2 separate regions of the Homo sapiens genome follow, and region 2 is reported to be linked to region 1. The links are microRNA targets in miRTarBase. Many come from high-throughput screens and were not tested one by one. Region 1 holds a microRNA gene; the other region holds the end of a gene's coding sequence.
What was found. The annotated mature microRNA hsa-miR-4427 reads UCUGAAUAGAGUCUGAAGAGU and lies in region 1 at 1,925-1,945, opposite strand. An mRNA with a match to its seed (bases 2 to 7 or 8) in the 3' UTR can be bound and repressed. Matches are read on the target gene's strand: a 7mer-m8 pairs with bases 2 to 8, a 7mer-A1 pairs with bases 2 to 7 and ends in A, and an 8mer does both.

Region 2: miRTarBase lists FNBP1 as a target of hsa-miR-4427. The part of its 3' UTR that is shown has no 7-base or 8-base seed match.

The regions. Positions count from the first base shown.
Region 1 is chr1:233,621,751-233,626,139 of GRCh38, reverse strand. It overlaps MIR4427 (microRNA 4427), which reads right to left and starts at 1,988; the gene lies at 1,921-1,988. The region is part of intron 1 of KCNK1 (potassium two pore domain channel subfamily K member 1); the gene reads right to left.
Region 2 is chr9:129,887,104-129,891,492 of GRCh38, forward strand. It overlaps FNBP1 (formin binding protein 1), which reads right to left. Exons shown (of 17, transcript NM_015033.3): 17 at 84-3,443. The coding sequence ends at 3,436. Among named protein-coding and RNA genes, the nearest start is that of MIR6855, 20 kb to the left of the region's middle. RefSeq lists enhancers at 1,093-1,492, 1,823-1,912, 1,867-2,754.

The sequences.
Region 1 (4,389 bases):
CGAGAGGCATCGGTGGTCCGATGACCCCCTGGGTCATCAGAAGAGCCTCCTTTTAGTCTCAGCCTCAGCCTTGCCCTCCTACACCAGCCAGAGTGAACGCGTTGGAACAGTCAGTCAGATTGTGTCAACCCTTTGCTCAAAATCTCCTGGTGCTTTTCCCCTAGCTCAGATAAAAGCCAGATGTTTTGCAGTGGCCTAGGACATCCTACAGCATCTGCTCCCTCCCCTTCTTCCTGACCTCATCACTCCCCTCTTACTCAGCTCCAGCCACAGTCACTTTCTAGCTGCACCTCCAATAGGTGCCTTTGTTCTGGAACACAGCTCCCCAGAAAACTGCATAAGGCACTCCCCACCTCCTCTCACTCTTTACGTAAGTGCCATCTTCTCAGTAAGGCTTTCACGGGCAACTTTATGGAAGACTACGATCCTGGACTCTGCCCCCTTCACCATACACTAATCACACACTCCCCATCTCCTTTGCTCTGCATTGTTGTTCCTGAGCACCTATCACCACCTAACATCCTGTGCATTTCCCTTAGTTATCTCTTTGTTCATGCTGGAGCTCAGAAAATGATAACCCAAAATCAAGGTCCCAGAAGCAAAAGTTTTTCTCCGACCTTCTCCTGCCCTCCTATCTCTCACCCCTCATCCTCCCCCAGGCTAGCCATAAAATCTGGAATACCTCTTCCCCAAGGTGGATCCTAGAGACCAGAACCCCATTTCCCCAAAGCCAGCCATAAAACCATAAAACTTTTCCTCCACCTTTCTATGTAAAACTGGCCAATGAAATTATATGACCCATCTTGTTTGACTGTAGGTCATAAGAATCCCCATTCCAGAGAGGGTGCTGCCCCACACCCAGAAGGAAGGAATACATGCTCAGAGAGGCCGAGAAGATTCCAGACAGGCCTTGCTGGGCTTCCCCGCTTGGTCTTATAAGATTTAGATCATTCCCTTTTGGTCCAATCCTATTTTTTACACACCTGTTTATACTTTGTTGAACCTAAGCATAAAAGTGAATGGTTTCCCCTGTGTTTTTGGGTCTTCATTCTGAAGGCTCCCATGTCACATAAACTATGGTCAAGCAACTGTATATGCCTTTTCTCCTATTAATCTGCCTTTTATCAGGTGATTTTCAGTGAAACTTCAGAGGGTGAAGGAGAAGTTTTCTCTTGGCCCCTACAATTGTATCTCCGATCCCAACCCAGACTGACACATCCAGGAGGGCAAAAGTGATTTTTGTGGTTTTGTTCCCTGACATATCCCTAAGTGCCTGGAGTAGCACCTAGTAACCAAAGTGCTCCACAAATACTCAGAGAGGAATGAATGCCTCTCTTCTCTTTATATCACTTAGGGCCTTTTGTGGTGCACCGAGTACACATGAGGCCCCCCAGATATCATTGTTTTTATATGAATAGCTTCAAAACCCATTTTGGCAATGCAGGCCTCTGTTTCCTCATCAAGAGAATAAAGTTATATCTAAGGTCTCTTGAATAGAAGTAACATCTTTAGAACCTTCTTCATTTTTCAGAAAAGGCACAGATTCAGACATATGAAGAAATGTGCCTTAAGTTGCTCCTTTTGAGCACCTGTTGAGTGCTAGGGATGCCAAGTGAGGCCAAGAGAGGTGCTATGGGAACCAGGTGCCAGGTGAGGCCAGGTGAAGACAGGTGAGGCCAGGTGAAGATAGGTGAGGCCAGGTGAAGACAGATGTTACGGGAACCAGCAGGTAGAAAGCTAAGTGCTGTGGAGAAAGAGCGGGAAGAAATGGAGGAGGTGTCTGGGACAACAGAACTTGAAAAGAACCTGCTTCTCAGTAGCCCCAAGTCCTGTGTGTGCCTGGCTCAGCGCATCCTGGGGAGCACACTTTCCTGGGATAGGGCACTTCTGCCGCCTCCCTCCTCAGTGCATACTTCCACCAAAGACTCTTCAGACTCTATTCAGACGAAATGATGAAACCATTGTCTAAATAAGCCCCAAGAGGCTTCAGTGAAGCAGAGTGAATAGGGAACTGGGGCATCGACTTGAGTAAATAGCTTAACTCAGGTCACAGAGCCCCCCACATAACAAGAGATGACCGTAAACAACTGGAGCCTCCAACTCCAACTCTATTGATCATACTCAGAGAAATGAAACCTAACATGTTTTACTCTCTCTAAATCCCTTAGAAACATTCTACCTGCTTTTGTTTTGTTTTTTGACTTGAATAGTTTCAGGTTTACTTTCTTTTTTTTAAAGAAAGCTTTTTTGGCAAGGTGCGGTGGCTCACGCTACCTGTAATCCCAGCACTTTGGGAGGCTGAGGTGGATCACCTGAGGCCAGGAGTTCAAGACCAGCATGGCAACCAACATGGCAAAACCCTGTCCCTACTAAAAATACAAAAGTTAGCCGGGCATGGTGGCATGCGCCTGTGGTCCCAGTTACTCAGGAGGCTGAGGCAGGAGAATCACTCGAACCTGGGAGGTGGAGGTTGCAGCGATCTGAGATCACGCCACTGCACTCCAGCCTGGGTGACAGAGCGAGACTCCGTCTCAATAACAAAAAACAAAAGGTTTCTTTCTTCTTTTTAAAACTGACACGTAATAATTTTACGTATTTATGAGGTACACAGTGATACCTCAATACACATAATGTACAGTGATCACATCAGGGTAATTACCATATCCATCATCTCAAATGTTTATCATTTCTTTGTGTTGGGAACATTTAATACCTTTCTTTTAGTGACTTGAAACTATATATTACTGTTAACTATAGTCATTCTACAGTGGTATAGACAACCAGAACTTATTCCTCCTATCTAGCTGTAATTTTGTATCCTGTAACAAATCTCTCCCCATCCCCCCTCCCCGTACCCTTCCCAGATGCTAGTATGCTCCATTTACTTTTCACTTCTATAAAGCCAACCTTTTTTTTTTCTTGCTAACCATTTCCATTTGTTTTCATTATCTTCCATTGTTTCTTTTTGAAAAGATAATCCCAGAAGTTAGTGCATTAGAAAAACTGTTTGAGATTAACTTTTTTTAGCTTCCACATATGGGTGAGAAAATGTTGTATTTAACACTCTGTGCCTGGCTTTCTGTCCTCTGAATGCATCAGCCATGATTTCACCGACTCTCTCTGAGTTCCCTGAGAGCTTTCTGCCTAAAGCCCTTCCATGGGTACTAATAACTGAGTCTCAGAGGCAGCAGCGGGCAGGCTTTTATTTCACAAAGTTGGTCAATCCCAGTCAGAGGAGCTAATGCAAAAAGTTAGACTCTGATCTGGGATCAAGCAGACGGTAGCAAATTAAAAACACTCCCATGTCTAACCTAAGCAAATTAATCTCATCAATATAACAATCAGCTGTTTTCCAAATTAAAGAAGGCAAACATGAAAACCAGTAGAAAGTCACAGATAAGCCCTTCTGATCTGACTCAAGTTCAAGGAGACAATCCCACAGTCCTTTCAGGTGCACAAACTCTACATCTCCAACTCCCTATTCTCTTTCTTCCTCCATTCAGCCTCAGATCGGGGGCATCACCTTGCAATATGCTGCTGACAGAGAGTGGGCCACCAACTTTGGGGATTGAACAAAAAATAAGGGATCCATGCAAAAGAAACAAAGAAAGTCAGAGTACAGACTGAGTCTAGGAGATAGAAGTATCACAGGAGTCAATAAAACACCTCAAAAGTTGCTTGCTTTCCAATAAAGTGACAACCTTTATCTCCTGCCTTGAATAAGCCACCTGGGCATGACACAGTCAATGGAGAACTTCAGCACCTTAGTATTTCACGGATTTGTCAATAATACAATTGGAAGATGTCTTTGGAGAATAAAAGCCAGCAGGTGCAACTCTGAGTATGTCAGAGTATATGAGGCAGATGAGATTTCTGTCCCTGAAACCAACCTTGTAGTAAACTGAACCTTCTGGAATTGCCATTTTTATGGGTCAAAACAATTGAGTGTCGGCAATTCACATGCTCCAAAGACAATAGACACTCACACACAGCAACAGTCCAATGAGCAATGTCATAAAACAACTTGTTCTCAAAGCACCGGAGTTCCCAATAGGTTACTGCTTCAATCAAAGATTCTGTTCTTGATAGGACTTACAGTTATGTCATAAAAGAAGAGACATCATTTCTTCCAAGTTATTGATAATAGTAGCAGTATCTTCCGGGGGCTATAAAATGACAGTCACACACAGTAACACTCCAATGAGCAATGTCATAAAATAGCTTGTTCTGAGAGCACCAGAGTTCCCTTAGGATACTGGTTCAATCAAAGATTCTGTCCTTGATAGGACTCACAGTTATGTCATAAAAGGAAAGACATCATTTCTTCCACGTTATTGATAATAGTAGCAGTATCTTCCAGGGGCTATAAAATAGGCATAGATAATAACA
Region 2 (4,389 bases), not on the chromosome of region 1:
CCAGGGGGCTTCCAATGACACCAGGCTGCTTCCACAACTAGGGTCATATCTTCATGCAACAAAACAGTCCCGTGACACGGAGCCACAAGTTATATTTTATTTTAACACGAGATTAACATATAGTTACAAGGTCAATACAAGCCTCCAGTGGAAGCTCTTTATTTGGTTTAATTCCATCTCCAGAGACAAACAGGCAACTCTAGGACCTTTACAGTGGCGATCGGCCTCACACAGCAAAATGCCTCCAAAGTTTAGAATTAGTGCAACACACATACGAACATTTTAAAGGTGCTCAACATCAGGTTAAAATAGAATTCTGGACCTTTTTAAAAAGTTTTTGGATGATATAAGCACAGGAGGCAGAGCCAATAAGAAACATGAAACCAATATTTCTGGAAAAACACTTAGCATGAACGTCACTTTTTGACGTCGTGTAAACTTTCTTCTGCAATGACGGATGTTACCAAAAGGCATCGAGACCTTTGCGCTGCGCTGGTTAGACAAGCCGCAGGCTTATCTCCACGGTGAGCAGGATAAAAACCCCCAAGGAACAGCCCATGACAACCTTCTGTGCCTTTTTATACTTTCCCATCCTACAAAGGAAAAACTGGGTAAAGGACAAGTTCCTCCCTTTCACTGCGTTTCTAAGAACTTTTCAGGGCAGGTTCTTTTAAAATTAGTCATCTTACAACACAACAGTATTCTAGCACGGTGGCGAAGTGACAGGCGGCAGATACGGGGGAGGAAGGAGACGTTCACGGGAAATTCCACATTCTACTCTATGTGAACTGCTCCAGAAAAATACAGACATGATTTCACAGTAGGATTCCCAGAGTAAATGATGATACATAGGACAACTGACCTCCTCTAAGAAGCCCGGCTGGGGCAGCAGTGAGCTTTTCATGGAGCCACGCAGACTGGCCCGGAAGCAACACCCAGGTTCAACATTTAAGAGCACTCGCTATAACATTCTTTTTGGACGCAGGTGGTGGAAAAGTTTAAAAAACAGGCGGAGGAGTGACGGGGGGATACAAGCATATCCTATACTGGGGGTGACGGTCATTCAAAGAGCAAATTACTGCAGCTTATATCTTTTCCACTATGTTGCAAGAAATGAATCTATCCTGACCCATAATATGAAAGATGTGACGCACATGCATTCCCGAGGCTCTAAAATCCCATTTTAAAGAACCGTTTCACATCCTCGTGGAGTGGAGAGTGGTCCACTTGACTTGGTGAGGTCAGAAGTTCCTGAAGATCCCTGTCGTCCCCGTTGGCGGGGGAGCCCATTGTGGAGCTGTGGGGACTGCCACACTCACCATGCACCTGTTGGTTTGCAGGGACAGAGGTGCGGCCCTGACTCTTCTCACCCTGTGTCATCCGGGCTTGTCTTTCGTCTGTCAAGTCAGTCCTCCTGCGTGACTGATGGGTGCACCACGCTTAGGTCACCCGTTGCAGGGACCGGAAGTCCATGGCTCTGCCGCAACCCTGAGCGGTTTGCAGTCCCCCCCGGGGAAGAAGCAGTCAGAGAGGCTCACGCTCACCTACTTTAAAAACCCAAAGCCACTTCCTCTTCACCTGCCTGGGCCTCAGCGTCTCTGCGCTTGTGGTTTCTCGTCCCCGAGGGCTGACTGAGCTGCTCCGGAAGGGTGGTGTGTGGTCAACCTTGGTTGGCTGAGAGGAGCAATTTCCTGGTTTCCACAAGTAAAGACAGCCCCATCCCTTGGGACCTGTCCTTTCCGTCCCTGTCCCTTTGGCTTCTATAGGACTTCCTTGTCTTAGATTCATAAACAGCAAGAGGAACTGAGGATGCTTGAGGGGACCACCTAGTTACCAAAGCCAAGCAAAGAATAAAGCTGCCCGACGTCATCCCCAGGCTTCCGTGGCGCTCTCGGTCACAGGAGCTCTAGGCCAATGGTTCCTCTTGACTGTTTCTGCACCAAATGAGAGGAGGGGCTGCTCTGCTCTAAGGCGTGGCGGGGGGGGGGGGTGGTGGCCACAGATTAGGGGACCTCAGGTTTTCCTCAAAAACCCACACAGGGAAAGAAACTTGGCTCTAAAAGCAAACTCAACGAATTCCACATGCCCTGAAGAGCACGTGATAAAATACAAGGGTGGTGGCGGCGGGATCCCTCAAAGGACCACGAGAGGCACGGGGTCTTTGGTGATGAAAGTGCTAACCTCGGCGGGGTGCGGTAGCTCACACCTGTAATCTCAGCACTTTGGGAGGCTGAGGCGGGCGGATCACCTGAGGTCAGGAGTTTGAGACCAGCCTGACCAACACGGTGAAACCCTGTCTCTACTAAAAATACAAACATTAGCCGGGCGTGGTGGTGCACGCCTGTAATCACAGCTATTTGGGAGGCTGAGGCAGGAGAATCGCTGGAACCCAGGAGGTGGAGGTTGTAGTGAGCCGAGATCATGCCACTGCACTCCAGTCTGAACAATAGAGCGAGACTCCCGTCTCAAAAAAAAAAAAAAAACAACAACAAAAAAGGAAGTGCTACCCTTTTCAGATGCTAATCCTGGGGCTCCTGGAAAGGAGAGGATGTTCGCTTTGCAATGAGCTGGTGCAGAGGGGAGGGCCTCGCTCACAAGCGCATGATCTACAGTTCTCAGGGACAGGAAAGTGATGGGGAGGACAGGCGTGGGCTCCTCATGGCCGGTGGACACAGGCGAGTCAACAAGGCGAGCTGGAATTCGACTTCCAGTGTGGACCTCCCCAGGCCACTGAAAACAGGGCGTCAAACCAAAATGTGTGTATGCGCACGCGTGTGTACTGGTGGGTGTGCCTGTGGGTGTGTGTGTACCTGCCCCCCTGCCTGCCAGATGCTCCCAGGTTGAGGGCATAGTGAAAGGGTCAATGTTTAGTATGAGGTGCAAGCCTAGAATCCAAAAAGGACCACTGAGGACTTCACAGACTCAGGAGAGGAGGAAGTGTTTTCTACAGCAGACAGTCTGGGACACACGGATGACATCGACACGGATGACATCGAGTGCTCAGTCCGCCTGATGTGCGCTGGACCTGCCTTGTCTCCTCAGGGGACCCGTGATGACACTTTCACAAAAGGCACTGTGTGAAGCGCGGAAGGGCTGCCAGGACGAGCCCGGGTGGACTGAGGGCCCAGGAAGGAGCAGGTAGGGGCGTGTGTCCCACCGTCTCAGTGGCCTGCGCGGGGTGGGGAGGGGGAGCGATGAGGACTGACCCGAGCCATGGGGGTGGGCGCTGGCGAGACTTGTCCCCCACGAGGTGGCCCGGGCTGGGCGGGAGGGCAGGGCCGCAGGGAGCATGCTGGAGAGAGAGAGAGACCGCCCCGCAGGGATGGGGCTGCGGAGGGGTGGGCTGTCCACAGGGCAGGGCGCTGGAGGCCTGTGGGAACAAGCAGACGGAGGCTCCTCCAGGAAGGCTCACCCGAGGCTCGCAGGCACTCCCCTCTAGGAATCTACAACACAAAGAGAAACAGAAAGAGAAACTCTCTGTTAGAGAGGAAGGCGCGGGTTCCAGGCGGGCATTTTGCTCTTGGCTACAAACTGCACCGCCCTGGGAGGGGAGGGTAGTGGGAGGGGAGGGATGGGAGGGGGCGTCTTAGAGCAATCGGTTACCACAGGGCGGGTCTGAGATGAGGAACTTTCACGGTTTTCTCTCTAGCCTTTAGCTGGTCTTTCCTTCAGAGTTAAGAGAAGCCCAAACAGGAGACTGATGAGGCCATCCGCCCCAACTCGTCTTTCTCATAAGTTTAGTTTTGAGAGAAAGTAAGAAACGGAGGCCGGGGCTGGGCGCCGTGGCTCATGCCTGTAATCCCAGCACTTTGGGAGCCTGAGGCAGGCAGATCACGAGGTCAGGAGTTCAAGACCAGCCTGGCTAACATGGTGAAAACCCATCTCTATTAAAAATACAACAATTAGCCTGGCGTGGTGGCAGGTGCCTGTAATCCCAGCTACTTGGGAGGCTGAGGCAGAAGAATCGCTTCAACCCAGGAGGCGGAGGTTGCAGTGAGCTGAGATCGGGCCACTGCACTCCAGCCTGGACAACAGAGCAAGACTCCGTCTTAAAAAAAAAAAAAAGGAAACGGAGGTTGGGTGCAGTGGCTCATACCTGTAATCCCAGCACTTTGAGAGGCTGAAGAGGGAGGATGCATGAGCTCAGGAGTTCAAGACCAGCCTGGGCCACAACATAGCCAGACCTCATCTCTACAAAAAATTAAAAAAAAATTAACCAGCATGTTGGCATGCGCCTGTAGTCCCGGCTATTCGGGAAGATGAGTTGGAAGGATGGCTTGAGCCCAGGGAGGTCGAGGCTGCAGCGAGCCAGGATCACACCACTGCACTTCAGCTTGGGCAACAGAGTGAGAATTCAACTCCAGAAAAAAAAGAAAAGAAAAGAAATGC